Homo sapiens: one gene and its partners. The protein of the gene in region 3 interacts with the protein of the main gene of each other region in a biochemical or structural test. Each region holds a gene or a part of one and is shown on either strand. Other genes may lie near its edges.

What was found. Proteins that work in one complex are often made in the same cells at the same time.
Region 1: the proteins of TRIM25 (region 3) and ERG form a complex in vitro, tested with the Homo sapiens proteins (one study listed by BioGRID).
Region 2: the proteins of TRIM25 (region 3) and AMFR form a complex in vitro, tested with the Homo sapiens proteins (one study listed by BioGRID).
Region 4: of the proteins of TRIM25 (region 3) and OTUD5, one has a biochemical effect on the other in vitro, tested with the Homo sapiens proteins (one study listed by BioGRID).

Annotation. Positions count from the first base shown.
Region 1 is NC_000021.9:38,491,978-38,495,477, reverse strand, and holds part of ERG (transcriptional regulator ERG), read left to right. Parts: intron 1-3,500. UniProt on the Homo sapiens protein: Transcriptional regulator. May participate in transcriptional regulation through the recruitment of SETDB1 histone methyltransferase and subsequent modification of local chromatin structure.
Region 2 is NC_000016.10:56,422,746-56,427,017, reverse strand, and holds the start of AMFR (E3 ubiquitin-protein ligase AMFR), read left to right. Parts: upstream 1-1,472; 5' UTR 1,473-1,690; coding exon 1,691-1,945; intron 1,946-2,028; exon of another isoform or gene 2,029-2,107; intron 2,108-2,283; exon of another isoform or gene 2,284-3,348; intron 3,349-4,272. UniProt on the Homo sapiens protein: E3 ubiquitin-protein ligase that mediates the polyubiquitination of lysine and cysteine residues on target proteins, such as CD3D, CYP3A4, CFTR, INSIG1, SOAT2/ACAT2 and APOB for proteasomal degradation.
Region 3 is NC_000017.11:56,890,050-56,895,303, forward strand, and holds part of TRIM25 (E3 ubiquitin/ISG15 ligase TRIM25), read right to left. Parts: intron 2,181-5,254; coding exon 1,651-2,180; 3' UTR 1-1,650.
Region 4 is NC_000023.11:48,921,524-48,924,065, reverse strand, and holds the end of OTUD5 (OTU domain-containing protein 5), read left to right. Parts: intron 1-13; coding exon 14-215; intron 216-319; coding exon 320-433; intron 434-767; coding exon of another isoform or gene 768-770; coding exon 771-892; 3' UTR 893-2,042; downstream 2,043-2,542. UniProt on the Homo sapiens protein: Deubiquitinating enzyme that functions as a negative regulator of the innate immune system. Has peptidase activity towards 'Lys-48'- and 'Lys-63'-linked polyubiquitin chains. Can also cleave 'Lys-11'-linked ubiquitin chains (in vitro).

The DNA of each region.
Region 1 (3,500 bases), on a different chromosome or scaffold from region 3:
GCAGCAGCATCAGGGGAAAGCATCTTAAAAATCAGACAGGACATGGAAAGTTACTAACAAGGCTTGGTGGAGACCTGAGGGCACCCTAGTGCTATTTCCATGACTTGCCTAAAGAAGTTACTTTTTTTTGAATTAACAGAGGTTGGAAGGTTTGATGGTAATTGAAACACGACCTGATAGGACTCAATTTTATTAATTTAAAGACATAAAGCTTGCATTATATACGCCACGTCTGCACATTTGCACTTCTTGAACGTTTGCTATCACATGTGAGGGAAACTTAATTAAGACTAAGAGTTATATGAAGAAAGTTAACTCCTCACAGAATTTTGATGGATGTGATTAATGAGTTTAATAGCTACAGATTTATGATTTTTCATCAACCTGTTGGCTAAGTGAAATACGAATTGCGTCAGTCCTTGTTACTTTAGGGGGATTCCGGGAGAATGGAAGGAAGGCCAGGGGCAAAATGCCGCTGCCCTGCTGTGCATAAGTCATTTCAGAGCATGCTCTGAGTGTTTGTCCTTGCCGAAAAGTGGCTTTACAGGCAACTACTTTAAAACAACTTGCTGCTTCCGTTCTTGGTCAGCTCTGTGATCCAGGCTGCCCTCTGTGGACACAGCACAGTTCTCCCTGGCCCTCTGCCTGTGTGTGCATGCACCCATGCATGCCAGGCACCCTGACTCAGTGACCCTGGAAAGCAGGATTGAGAATGGCTCCATCTGTGGGCTTTTCTTCCCCCATGAAATACAGTGCAGGACTGCAATGCTCTCAGACAATGTGCTGAGCCTGAACCATTTCTTAATTATCTACGTTTATAAGTGATTATCTCATAAAGTTTTTGTTTTGCAAAACAGATCTTTATTTAAACACAAACACAGGTTAACAACTCTTGAAAAAGCATACATAAAAATAAGTAAATGAAACAACCATTTCTGTTGTCTTCAGGAAAATATGACTGATACATTTAGAACTTTAGAATAAGATTCCCTCTGTGGGAGTGGAGACCCAAAGCCATTATAGGCATCCCAACAATTTGGCGGATTTATTGGTTTAACAGCTGATACATAAGAGAATCACAGAGTAAGGGCCATGGGGAAGCCAGACGGATGAGAGTTTCTCTGAAATGAGAAACCTCAGAGAAGAGACAGGGACAGTCTCCAGGCTGTTCCAGCGTTTGGTAGCACACTGTGCTCTGGCGGGGTCTTTTCTTTGGAGCTACCTCAAGGAGAGCCTTCTTGTCCCCTCCTTTGACCCCACAGGATAGAGGACAACTGCTCCCTGGCCTGGGGATTCTGTCAGACCACCCCTGATAGCGCTTCTCTCACCTTACGTGGCCGCAGACACACTTGCATTTGCTTCCTTCCTGTTGTGACCCTGGGCAAGGTAGCTAGCCTGTCTGATCTCAGTTTCGTCACCTGTAAAATGGGATCATAATGGCTACCCTGTCTCGCACCCATCCTCAATAAATGGCAGATGCCATCAGACGCCCCCCCGCGGATGTAACCTTTTCTACCGTATTGTCTTTCAGGCTCTGCACTCACTCGTCTCAACATTTCCCACGGCCCAGCTTCAGCTGTGAAGCCCACAGCCATAGACTGCTCTGATGTGCGGCCTCCCACACCCAGGCAGGGTACATCTGGGTCTGGGCAGCCACAGGACAGGGAAGGAAGGAGGAGGGAGCTTGCAGGGGTGCTTGTTAAAGGTGTAGCAGGGCAGGTACCACACACAGGGGCAGGTGGAGCGTCCAGGGGTCGCCCGAGGTGGTGCTGGTCAGAGAGGGTTGGCTTCGTCCTGTTCTGAGCCGAGGCTGCTGGAGGAGGGCAGAGGCCTATGACTGCATCGTGCTCCTGGTTAGGGCAGGAACAGCACCCTGGAATACCCCACTCTCCTCTTTACTCCTGAATTACAAAAAATACATCTTGTTCTTTAGCATAAATTATAAACATAAAAAATTCTTATGGTAGAGAAAACGTTTAAAAGTCATCACAAAGTCAATATAAATTGTTCAGATCCTAACCAACCACAGCAAATTCCTAACAATTGGGATATGTCTCTCCACCGTGTGTATCTGTTTGGCCTTGTATCTACCTACCTGTCCTGCTCTTCTCAGTTAGCATTGTTTTACAAGCATTTTCCCATGTTACTAACATTTTTTGATAAGCAAAATTTTTGTTTCATTATATTCTATCTAAAATATGTATTACCATTTTATAACCAATATCCTAGTGTATAAAGTGATGCTGCTTGCGATGTTTCACTCATTATATTGCAGTACACCATCTATTTAATTTTTTGAATACTTTTTATTAGTATTGGTGCCTAGAAAGGAATTATTGAGCCAATGGGTATATATATTTTTTAAGTCTTTGCCAAATTTAAATATTTGCCAATTTAAAAAATAATTACCAGATTATTCTCTGGAAGGATTATACCAGTTCTCCCTTTTTCTAGCCACATATGAGACCAGTTCCACACTACACCCATAACAACTCTGAATATTTTACTCTTTGAATCTTTGCCATTCTGACAGATAAGAACAGAATCTCATTTTTATTTGTACTTCTTTAATTTTAGTATTTCATTACATTTTTTTGTTTGTTTGCTGTGAACCCATTTTGGCTAGTGGTCCACTGTGACCTCTGGATTTTTTTTCTTATTTATACTTTTATTCTCTGTTTGGTCTAGCTTACTTTCCACATATTTCCCCTACTGAGCTTGGCCAAGACATGTTTTATAAAATTTCACATCGATTCCCATCTGTCCACTCTCCCACTCTTCATTTTCTTTCCTGTCAGCACATTCTCCCAGCTTTGCTTGTGTTTGTTGTTGAGTGTGAATAATTTATGTATACCCACTGATATCGCAGAAGCTGTTTTTAGTGATATCTTATCCATTTCTTCTGTGTCCTCAACAGTGACTGGCAAAGAGTAGAGGTTCAATAAGCACTTGTTGAAAACATAAACTTAAATTTTAATTATTTGAAATCATAAAGAGGAAGTTAAGATATCAGAGTAATGTAATTATCATTGTAGACTTCAAATAGAATTCTTATGTTTTTAGAGACATTTCTCCTAGTAAAATAACGTTAATTAAAATTGACTTAAATTGATGTTTAAGAAAGTATAAAAAATGTAGCTGTAGTATCTTGAATTCATAATCCAAACTAACATCATCCTAATAACTGCTTGTTATGTGCCAAGTCCTGTGCTAAACTCTCATAATGTCTCATGTGATCCTCACAGCAGCCTGGGTACTGCTGCTTTCTTACAGATAAGGACAAAGGATTAGAGAGGCGAAGTATCTTATACAAGTCACACAAATCTGTCTCCCTTCTCTTTATCATCTGATCTCTTTTTTCCTGCTATTCACCCTAGCTGTACATAGTGAATTACTGTGCAGAGAAACATGATGTATTAAGTGTTATGGAGACACATGAAATAATTGGATAATGAAAATTATTATCGCTGGTTACTTTATGTTATCTACTCTTCTGGGAA
Region 2 (4,272 bases), on a different chromosome or scaffold from region 3:
TTGGAAAATCCTACAAATATTTACAGAGCACCTACTCTGGGCTGAGAACTCTTACAGGCCCTGGGGATGCAAAAGGAATAAAACTCCCAAGGTAACATTTTTTTCCTTTGGTAACAGCTTATTGAGATACAATTCGCATATTGAGATAGAACTATTTAAAGTGTACAATGATTTTTCAATTCAGAGTTGGGCAATCATCACCTCAATTTTACATTTTCATTACTTTGAAAACAAACCTATCCCAGCCAGTGACTCACGCCTGTAATCCCTGCACTTTGTGAAGGCAAGGTGGGAGGATCACTTGAGCTCAGGAGCCACAGACTGGTCTGGACAACATAGCAAGACGCTGTCTCTACCAAAAATTAAAAATTAGCCAGGTGTGGTGGCATACGCCTGTAATCCCAGCTACTGGAGAGACTGAAGCAGGAAGATTTCTTGAGTCCAGGAGATGGAGGATGCAGTGAGCATGCCACTGTACTCTAGCCTGGGCCACAGACCCTGTCTCTTAAAAGAAACCTGCACCCTTTATCACCCCCTACTCCCCTCTTCCTCCCATCCCTAAGCAATCATTAATCAACTTTCTGTGTCTGTATATGTACTTGCCTATTGTGGACATTTCATATCAATGGAATCACACAACACGTGGACCTTTGTGGCTGTCTTCTTTGACTTAGCACGTGTTTAAGGTTCGTTCCTATTGTAGCATGTATCAGTAGTTCATTTTTATGGCCGAATAGTACATTTTATGGATGTATCACATTTATCCACTCATCGCTTGACGGACATTAGCGTTGTTCCCATCTTTTGATTGTTAGAATGTAATCAACATTTGTGTACAAGTTTTGTGTGGAGGTATGTTTCCACTTTTCTTAGAGGAGTGGAATTACTGGGTCAAATGGTCACTCTTGTTTGACTTTAAGGAAAGGACAGGTTATTTTCCAAGACAGCTGCACCATTTGACATTCTCACTTCTGGGGTATGAGGGAACACATTTTTATTTCCCGCTAAATCAGGTTCATTTTTTAGTTTCTGCTGGAGGCTACTAGCAAACAGCAGAAACTTGAAAGACTGTTAATATTCTTTCTTCTGGGGTTTCGGGCACCAGGGAAGCTGCGCGGCCCCTAGGAGTGCTGGGGGTAACCTCTTCAGAGGGTTAATGGGGTGGGGGGGGGGCAAGTGGCCGACGGCCTGGTGGCCAGGGTGCCCCGCGCCCTGAGGCCCTGCCCGCCTGCCAGCGCCTGCGAGCCCGAGTGACCCCTGCGCCGCGGCCGGAGCAGGTGCCCTCTGTGTCTGCGGGCCCAGCCAAGCCGTGGTGCGGACGGCGGATGATGCTGGGTGCCCGCCCCCCGGCCTGAGGCCCGGGGCTACGCCCGCTAGGCGGCGGCGCGACCGCTGGGGGCGGGGGACGAAGGCCGCGCCCCTGCGCCCGTCCCGCCAGCGTCCCGCTGGGGGCGGCGGCCTGTCCCGAGCCCGCCCAGGCTCTTCCGCGCCGGCAGGGGCAGCAGCGGGAGCAGCGCGGGGCGGAGCGGCGCCAGCAGCCAGGAGCGGCCCGGCCCGGCCCGGCGCGGCGGCGGCGGCGGCAGCGGCAGCGGCAGCGACGCCAGAGCCCGTGGGCGCCGTTCGCGAGGCCGCCGCAGAGGCCCGGCCGCAGCGCAGGGAAGCCTGGGGGCCAGAGGTCGCCGCTGCCGCCATGCCGCTGCTCTTCCTCGAGCGCTTCCCCTGGCCCAGCCTCCGCACCTACACGGGCCTCAGCGGCCTGGCCCTGCTGGGCACCATCATCAGCGCCTACCGCGCGCTCAGCCAGCCCGAGGCCGGCCCCGGCGAGCCGGACCAGCTAACGGCCTCGCTGCAGCCTGAGCCGCCGGCGCCCGCCCGGCCGAGCGCCGGGGGACCCCGGGCCCGCGATGTGGCCCAGTACCTGCTCTCAGACAGCCTCTTCGTGTGGGTGAGCGAGGCGGCCGGGCCCGCGGGGCAGGGGCGGGGTCCGCTGCGTCACCCTTTATCCGCGGGGGCGTGGTGGGCCTAGGGGCCCCTCCGCCAGGGACCCCCGAGGGCGAGCGCCTGGGGGGCGCGGCCTTGCTCGCGGGAGCGCTGCTGAGGGAGAGTGGTGAGGCGCGGGGAGGGGGAGGGGGCCGCGGGCGGGAGGAACATCGCGTGGGGTTGCGAGGAGGAGGCCCCGAGGGGCAGGCCAGCGTTGAGGGCTCCGGGAAGGGGGTCGGGGAGGCGGCGGGTGATGGTCTGCGCTGGGGCGCGGACGGGGCCTGGGGCAGGGGAAGGGGTTAAGGGGCAGTGGGGAGGAACGGGCTGGGTTTTCTGAGGGACCCTCGGGAGAAACTAGAAGATCTCAGAGGGCAGGTTCAAGGGGAGGTCGGGATCTGGGAGTGCGTTATCCCGAGGGTTGGACGAAGTAGAGTGAAGTTGAAAGCTTTTCCCACTTGGTCAGGCATGGGATTGTTAGCGGATTTTCTTCCGACGAAGAGGAGAGGGCAGAGGGGAGAATTCAGACGTTGAGTATGGGGGAATTTTCGGCACTCAGGTGTCTTTGGACATTCCGGTTGGAGAGAGGCCGTCTCCCACAACTTTTTTGCCGCTTAGTATTCGATTGTCCCCTTTGGGAGCTGTGTAATGAAACAAACACCAAACTGTGCTTCCTTTTCTGCTGCCTTTACCTGATGTTCATGACAGTTTTCCTTTGATGTCTGAACGCAGCAAAACATTCACAGTGTCAAGAGGCAGCCCATCATTTTAACTGAATGTTTCTTATTTGAGGATCTATTCTAACACAGTTTCCAGGTTGTCTGCCCCTGCGAGATAAGCAGCATTGATAAGGCACACATGCTGGTTTCGTTCATTAGAACAGATAATTTCAGACTGATCAGATCAACGGTATTTTGGCTAGAGAATTTTGCTTTCATCTTGGCCTTGAATACTTATGTAAATCCCGCAGTGATCAGAAAAGTTTCTCCAGGATTTAAAGCCTCACTTGGATTTAATATGGCTTCTTGGATCTTGTCTCCTTGCATGTTCCCATTTGGGGTTGAAAGTGGGCTGTAAATGACTGAGAGATTAATATTCCAAGTTGATAGTATGATATGCAACTCATTTGTTATAATTAGTCCCACTGTGCTTCATCAGGAAGCGGTGGGATTTATGGACTCTGTGGGCTGTAGATTAAGTCTCCTGGTCCTTCTGATGGAGAGTTTAGTAGAAGGCAGTGAAGGGTGAAGTTCCTGTTTATCTACTGCTGTGTAAAGCTGAACTTTACAGTCCTAAAGAAGGGAGAAGCGAAAGAACTCAACTCACATCTCTTGCTTAATTTCAAATCTGTTTTTGCATTTGAGTTAGCAGGTAAACAAAGTGATATGGAGAGTGTTTTTGCCATGTTAAGATTATAATGTAGTCTTTGATATTTTTTAAGTCTAAGATATAAATAAGCCTTTGAGAAGGAACCCTTATTTTATTTATATAACAACACTGGTATTGTTTAATGGATTTCCCCCCGCAGGACTTTATTTTGATAAAAGCCATGTTCAGATTCTAAAGTTAATATCTCTTCAGAAAACATTACATAAAAGCTGTTGATTTTTCTGTGATGATGATTACTTTTTAGGAAATTTCCTTTTCTTCCAGCATTTTCAGTAGAGGTCTTACCTCTGGCAGGTTTATCACTTCTTACTCTCCGCTGATGATATTTTCATTTCTCAGTTGATCCTAGTGCTGTTTTTCTTCCATCTTTCCTCTGGGGTCTCCACGTGTTTACTTTGGCCTGCTTTGGTTTCTCAGACCCTCCATGTGCTCACTGTTTGTCTCATCACTCAGTGTATATGTAGTTTCTGCTTTAGCAGCTGAGTAGAAGTGACAATCTCAAAAGCCTTCCCCAGTGGTGGGACAGATTAAGATTGTTGAGTGAATACCCTATGTGGTGGTGCCTTTGTCAACTGGATCCTCCTTGCGCCCTCCCCTAGTTCTATTGAATTCAGATTCAACTTTTTCACGAACACTGCCTGCCAAGGCCAAGCAAGACAAAACAAAGACTGATCCTTCTGCCAGTGCAAGTCCTGCTAGATATTAACATATTGTAATTCCCAAAACTTATCTTTTTAGAGCACAGTTTAGAATAATATCGGTCTGATAGCATCACAGGAGGTTTTTCATGAACAAACACAATTTAAAACCTTTCGAAGGTGTTATTTTGGGCACTTTGGAGGGCATATCTGTGAACAACACTTTCCCCTACCCTCAGTAATATGGCAAAATTTTATAGGGGATAAT
Region 3 (5,254 bases):
CCCTAGAGTTCCAGCACGAGGCCTGAGATGCATTACATTCTCAAATATCCATATGAAAAGGTCTGGGGTCTCTAGTTCCCCAATGGTGACTTCTTTTCATATTATAGGAAGCCTGACAGGAGCTCTCCTCTAAGCAAAGCCCAGAGTTGGACTCATTTCACTATAAGAGGCTAAATTCCTCATACTCACATCCTGACAACATTAGGCTATAAGGAGCTTGGGGAAAATCCAGCCATCCATTCACTCCCGCCCCTTAGTGGACTGGGTTATTTTCACCACACAGAAACACTGCAGGGAAAATAGCCACTTGTGTGACCCTCTTTAGCTCTTTCCCTCCCTCCCTGATCAATGTGAGCTTATATAATTGGCTTAAATGAGGAAGTCAGTAGAAGGGGCTAGGGCCAGCCCCAGGCTCTGACTCACGCAAGGGCCAGTGCTGGGTCTGCAGCCTGTGGCCAGGGATGAACAGGAATGTTCCTGTTCCCCATGAGGTTTGCTAAAAGACCCCTTTGGTGGTAGGTTGACACCCCAGCAAGTGGCCTAGCATGGTCCGAGGCAGCCGCATAGCCTGTCTGCATGATAGCAGGCTTCAGGGATCCAGCTTAGCTGGAGGCTTGACTGTGCTAGCCTCGGTGGTACCTGCACTGTCATTCCATATGTCACAATCCAGGGAAGAGAGGCTATCACCGAGAAGAGTTGTCAGTAAGAAGGCAGGACACTCTAACACGAGCAAACCCACCAGGCTTCTGTTGATCCAGGGCAGCATCCCCCTCGCCTGGCAGAGTTCCTTGCCCCACAGCCAAGGCTATGGGAAGCAAGGCCTCCAGCAAAGCTCATGGCTGCCACCAAAGCATCTCTGCCAAGATGCTTCTTATGATACTTAGGAAGGATTTCCACCCAAACTGGATCAGGGTCACCATGACCCTGAATCACAAATCCAACACAGGCTGATTCCAATCATGGTTTGAAGCTTTAGCTGAAAAGTTTGCTGTTTGAAAACCATCAATGTGGGGGCGATGGGTGTGCAGGGTAGGAAGGGAACGCACTATTTTCCAGTGGAGGAAGAGGGTATGCCTCTTTAGGAAACTGTTCTGGGTAGAGACTGCTGTGGGTGTTTCCTCAAGCACAGATAATAACCAGGAGATCAAGCCCCAACATGCGGGTAATGGAGTTTATGTAACATTGAAACTCAATGACTTTGGAACTTTAAAAACATCTATAGTAAGAATTCAAAACACCAAGATCTGAAGGCTACCCCAGAGAGCAAAGGGGCAGCCTTCAGATCCAAGTGGCCCAAGACAGAACCTACAGTAGCTATGGATTTTCTCTAAGAGGAATCGGGCACTCATGACTTCACTTCCCAGAGCTCTGCCCAGCTGCCCAGCAGCCTGGAGATTTCCAGAACAATGGGGAGTAGGTCACCCTGCCCTGATAGGCACCAGGGGGTGGAAACGCCTCCTCGCCCACAACACAATCACTCTCACCCCTTTCCTGGCTAAATCCCACCTCCCACCCTCCCGCCAGCTCCCCTCCCATGCTCCCAATCCTTGGGACCTCTTGGGGAATTATCCAAGGAGAGTTCTGCCTGCTGTATTTTCACTAGGGTCTTGGGACTTCTGCAGGCAGTCAGCCCAAGTGCCTACAGCCTGCCTACTTGGGGGAGCAGATGGAGAGTGTGGCACCAGCAGAAAATACCCAGAAAGCCGGGTACAAAGCCTCAGTAAAGTCCACCCTGAACTTATACATCAGGTGGACCTTGTCGGCAACAGCGAAGAAGATGACAAAGCCGTGGTCACAGTTGAGAAGCACGCCCACCCGCGTGGCCTTGGTGGAGGGCAGGGTTTTCTCCACGTTATTGTGCCAGGCAGAGATCTTGGTGTTGAACCACTCCACGCACCAGGAGGCGCTGTTGCGGCCGAGCCTGCTTTCTGGGCCCTGCCGGTTCATGCTTCCGTAGCAGATGCCTACCCCACAGAAGTTGTTCTTCTGCAGCTCCACCTCCCAGTAGTGGATCCCCTTCTTGTAGCAGTGCAGGCCCAGCACCTGAGAGCAGTATGTGAACCTCTGGGGATGCGGCCGGTAGTTCTGAGGCATCTCAGCCACAGAAGCTACTGTATAGCACTCTGACAGAGCCACTTTGTTGTGGGCGGTGTTGTAGTCCAGGATGACTTTAATGTAATCTGAGAAAACATCACCCCAAGGAATTAATTACAAGGGGCCCAAAGTGCTCTTTTAGACCTTTGCCAAAGTGGTACTATTTATTCACTAGTTTTATCCATCCATGCACCCATCTACCCATTGGTCCATCCATCCACTCATCTATCCATCTGTCTGTCTATTCATCCATCTATCTGTCTATCCATGTATCCATCAATCCATCCATGTATCCATCCATCCATCTATCCATCTACCCATGTATCCATATACCCATCTATCTACCTATCTATCCATTCTTCCATTCATCCATCTATCCACTTATCTATCCATCCTTCTGCCTTTCCATTTATCCATTCATTCATTCATTAATCTATCCACTTATCTATCCATCTGTCCATTTATCCATCCACCCATCTATCCACCCATCCATTATTCATCAGCTCATCTATCCATCCATTCATCCATCCATTCTGTCCAGCCAGCCAGCCATCTATCATCTATCAGTCATCCGTATGTCTGTCCATTCATCCATCCAAAACCATTTACCAGGCACCTGACTGACACCAGATTCTGGCACAAGATGCACAACCATGAACCAGAGAGACAAGGTGCCGGGCCTCATGGAGTTCACACTCCAACAAGCAAGGCAAGTCCATCAGTAACAACACCATGAGACTCACACTCTGCCAAAAGGGTAAGCACACACTGTAGGGACACAGAGACAAGGCAACTGATGCTACAGTTGGGGAACATTTCACTGGCAGGCTGGAATTGGAGCCAAGTAACAGAAGATGAGAACTAGACAGAGGAGAACAGAGAGAGAAAAGCTGTTCCAGACAGAGGGAACAGTGAGAGTGAAGCCACGGAGTGCCAAGGGGATTCGCATGTGCTGGGATCGGGGAAGCTGGGTGGCTGGGAACACAGATGCAGCAGGAGAAGGGAAACATGTTGGGGCTAGAAAGGGAAGGGCTTAGGAGGCTAGACTTTAACTGGTGGGCAGCAGGGAGCCAAGCGAGGCACTCATTTGCTAGGTGGCTCAGGGCATGACACTTTTCACTGGAGCCCGAGTTTCCCCCAAGGCAAAATGAATAAGCTGGGGGTGGAAAAGGCCCTAAGTTGATAGAATTTTACTTTCCCTGTTTATGCGGCTGCCACAGAGTGCACAGCAGCTCCTGAAAGACGTGGCTCAGCACCGCCGCTAGCAGCTTGGGCAAGAGTTAGCTGCAGCCCAGGGCTGGTCTGGGCCTCTCTTGGGGGGCAGGGACAGCGGAGGGCTACAAGAAGGCCAGCCCTGAAAAAGCAAGGGACCCACAGATCCCCACCAAGCCTGCTGCAGCTGCTTATGATAAAGGAAGGGCTATATTTTTCAGTGATTGGCTTTGGCCTCCACATGGAAGTGGGTACCACTGGCAGGTGCTGCCTGGAGTGTTGCACGTGGGTGCAGAAGAAACAAGAAGACGGAAAGTGGGAGGGCCCTAGGCCTGGCCTTGACAACGGAACTCCACCCACTTCCAGGTTGGACGAGCTTGCAAAGGAGGGGTGGATGGAAACCCAGGGGGGTATAGCAGCTCAAGCGGCAAGGGGAGAGAGTGTCAGAAGGAGGAGGAATGCCACTGACAGGTGAAGCTAAATAAAAGCTGAAAGGCGTCCCTGGATTTTGTGACACGGAGTACCCTGATGACCTCAGAGCTGCCTGGGTCAAGGGCAGGACAGAGGTCAGAATGCAGTGGCACGAGGATTAGACTTCAGGCTCCCACCTCGGCCCCACATTGCAACCCTGGGCAGCCAAACACCAACATTCTGAATGAACCAGTCTGGGGGACAGCCTGGGCATCGGGGATTTTAAAAAGCTCCCCAGGATTCCAACACGCAGCCACAGTTGAGAGCCACCAATGTAGAAAATCTGCAGAGCTGCTTTTCCCCAACTGTCCTCAAAAGGATCATGGAGGAAATGAGCTAAACATACAGCTTTCCGTGCTTGCCTGAGTCTGATCTTGTAGGGCTAGAACAGGGCCCAGGAATTTGGTTTTTGGGGTTTTTTGTTTGTTTGTTTGTTTTTTAAGACAGAGTCTCGCTCTGTTGCCCAGACTGGAGTGCAGTGGCACAATCTCGGCTCACTGCAACCTCCACCTCCCAAGTTCAAGTGATTCTCGTGCCTCAGCCTCCCAAGTAGCTGGGATTATAGGCATGTGCCACCACGCCCGGCTAATTTTTTGTATTTTTAGTAGAGATGGGGTTTTGCCATGTTGGCCAGGCTGGTCTTGAACTCCTGACCTCAGGTGATCCACCTGCCTCGGGCTCCCAAAGTGCTGGGATTACAGGCATGAGCCACCGCACCCAGCTAGTAATTTGTATTTTTAACAAGCATTCGGGTGAAAGGGAGGCAGGAAACAGAGCTGCAGCTGAGACAGTTTTGCTAGGTTTGTTTTTGTGATTTGGAGAGATGTAAACGTGCTACAGATAGGCAAGCCTAGGTAGAGATGCTGAGGGTGAAGAGATGGGAATGGAAAGGCCTAAGAGAGAGCAGAAGATTCCAGAGAGCGTGTGGGGAGCAGACTCCAGAGCCCAGGGCCAGGGGGTCTTGGGAAAGGGGCCAGGAGGCGAGGAAGGGGGCACAGTAGATGCAGATGCGATGTCAATAACAGAGCAGGGGGAGCCCCTTCTACAGTGTCTGTCTTTTTCGTGAAGCAGAAGGTGGGCGGGACAGGGAGAAGGATGGAGCTATGGCCAGTGGGAAGTCTTGGGAATGGTGGCTCTGGAGAGTGGTGGGGAGGAGACAGGAGATGCAGGGCAGGCATGCCGGCAACGGGACGCCCGGTGAAGGCCGGTGACCGCAATCGCCCTGCCTTCTCTGCAGAGGACATGCAGGCGCCGACCCACAGAGAAAGGTGAGCTCAATTGGGCCAGACTAGACGGCAAGAGGGAGAGTCAAAGGACCGATTGTGAAATCTGAGCTAGTTAGGAAAAGTAAAGAAAGGCACTGATGACTGGGAGAAAATAAGGGAGCAACAAAGTAGAGGACAAGTGAAGGGGAGTGGCTGATATAGCCGGCCAGCTGGCCTCACAGAGAGCTGCACAGAGCGGCGCAGGAGAGACA
Region 4 (2,542 bases), on a different chromosome or scaffold from region 3:
TTCCCCGCTGCAGCCCCGGAAAGCCAGCGCCACATGCAGTTCGGCCACAGCAGCAGCCTCCAGTGGCCTGGAGGAGTGGACTAGCCGGTCCCCGCGGCAGCGGAGTTCAGCCTCGTCACCTGAGCACCCTGAGCTGCATGCTGAATTGGGCATGAAGCCCCCTTCCCCAGGCACTGTTTTAGCTCTTGCCAAACCTCCTTCGCCCTGTGCGCCAGGTCAGTGACTTGCCCACAGGGAATGTGCTGGGAGTTAGGAGGCACGTCCTGGGTCCTGGGTCCTGGATCCTGGGTCCCTACCTTTGACTGTCCGTCTGCTTCAGGTACAAGCAGTCAGTTCTCGGCAGGGGCCGACCGGGCAACTTCCCCCCTTGTGTCCCTCTACCCTGCTTTGGAGTGCCGGGCCCTCATTCAGCAGATGTCCCCCTCTGCCTTTGGTAAGCCTCCTTTGTCTGGGGGGATGGAGGCTGCTAGGAGCTGGGAGAGACTGGAAGAAGTGGCAAGTCCTGAGAGGGGCTTTCTGGAGCCTCTGGCCATCTCCCCAAGAAAAGAAGGGAGAGGCACTGGAGGGGATTTTTCAGATCCAAGGAATTTGCCCCAGAAGGGTCTGGGGTCTAAGTGGGGTTTCACAGGCCTAGCAGATCCTTCTGTTTTGAGAAAGGAGTGAGAAGGGCCCTATGGGATTTCTCCAGAGCCCCAGATGTCGGCACAGGGTGAGGAGAAGGCAGGCTGAGAGCGCTCCATCATCCTTTTCCTCTTCCTCTCGCCCAGCAGGTCTGAATGACTGGGATGATGATGAGATCCTAGCTTCGGTGCTGGCAGTGTCCCAACAGGAATACCTAGACAGTATGAAGAAAAACAAAGTGCACAGAGACCCGCCCCCAGACAAGAGTTGATGGAGACCCAGGGATTGGACACCATCTCCCAACCCCAGTACTCCTGCTCTCCGGTGCCACCTCACCTTCTTTGGCTTCTTCCCTCTTGCCTCCTTCTGTTCTTTCTGCTCTCCCCTCTTTTCCCTCCTCCTCACTTCCCTCTGGCTAGCCCACCCCTGCACTCTCTCTCATTGCCGCTGCCACTATCACCTGTCTCTCTGCCAGCTGATGTGCCCTGTTGCCCCCCACCCCATCCCGCACAGAACCATCCCTGCATTCCACAGGGGACTCGGGCAAGGGTGCCGAAGATAGACAAGAGGCACACAGAGACAGACCAACTGGCAGCCAGGCAGCCCCAGAGGAGAGAGACATTCAGACAGAGGAAAGTCTCCCTGCCCCTCATTCCTTCCAAGATGAGAAAAACTTGCCGCCACCCCCCGACACTGATGCCAGGGAGGTGGGAGGAAGAAGTGGGAAATTTCCCTTCCCAGTACCCCCAAGAACGTCTGAGCCTTCAATGTTGAATTTTTTCTTTATTAAAATTACTTTTATCTTATAAAATCAACTAATCAAAAATGATATAGACGACAGCACTGGCTCTGTGAAGGTGGCATCTTTCTGGGCAGGCAGGCCATGGGGCATGGAGGAGGGTGCAAAGATATGGGTTGCTGTCTTCTGGCCTCCAGCTGCATGGAGGCCGGCCCAGGGTCTAGGGTGTGCACTGGGCAAGGGCAGGGCGGCAGGTGTCAGGCCGGCTTGGACAATGAAACCCTGACCTTGCTGCATTCCTTTTGCTTCCACCACCACTAGCTTCTTTGGAATCTTGGGGTGGGGGTCATCTTTGGGGATTATGGCTGCCACCCGGGATTTGAGTGTAGGGAGTGTGGGAGCAGCCTTGGCAGATGGGGCACCCGTGCCCTGCAGGTGTTGACAAGATCCGCCATCTGTAATGTCCTTGGCACAATAAAACCAAATGTCAGTTTCCCTGAGCGACTCTGTTCTGTGTGGGGCAGGGGTTGGGCGGGCCTCTGGGCAGAGGATGCAATGGCACGGACCTTGGCTTGACCTCAGAGGTGTGAATGCTCTCCAGCAGGGTCTGTCTGGGGGCCTGGAGTTTGTATTTGATTTGCTGCTTATTAAACCTCCTTCTGGACCTATTGCCACTGGAAAAGCTGCGTCTTTGCCTGCTGACCCCACCCCTGCCTACCCTATTTCCTGGGGGGGGGGGGGTGATGGTAGCAGAGGACTGTGAGCTTGAACTTCCTGCCTGAATTCCAGCTTCTCCGCCTGCCTCTCACCATGAATGCTGCTCTTTCCTTATCATGATCTGATGAAGAAAAGCCTTGGAAAAGTGCAACTGATACTTTGTAGCAACATGAGTTTAGTGGAAGTAACCAGAGGGGCCTCACCCACTAGGTTTTAGAAGGTGAAGGACGGCTAAACCCTTTTTTGTTCTTGTCCCCCAGTCTGACACCTCTTTGCCTGTCCTCCCTAGGGGTAAATCCAAGGTAAAGAAGGCTGGCTGGCCCCCAGGTTTTCTCAAGCAGCTTTTTCACCATGCCATGATAATGGAGACCCTCTGACAGGATGTGTGTCTGGTTCTGCAGTTGAGGGCATGGCTAGCTGAGTGGCTGTCTGCGGAGTGTGTCTGGAACCCAGTGGCCAAGCATC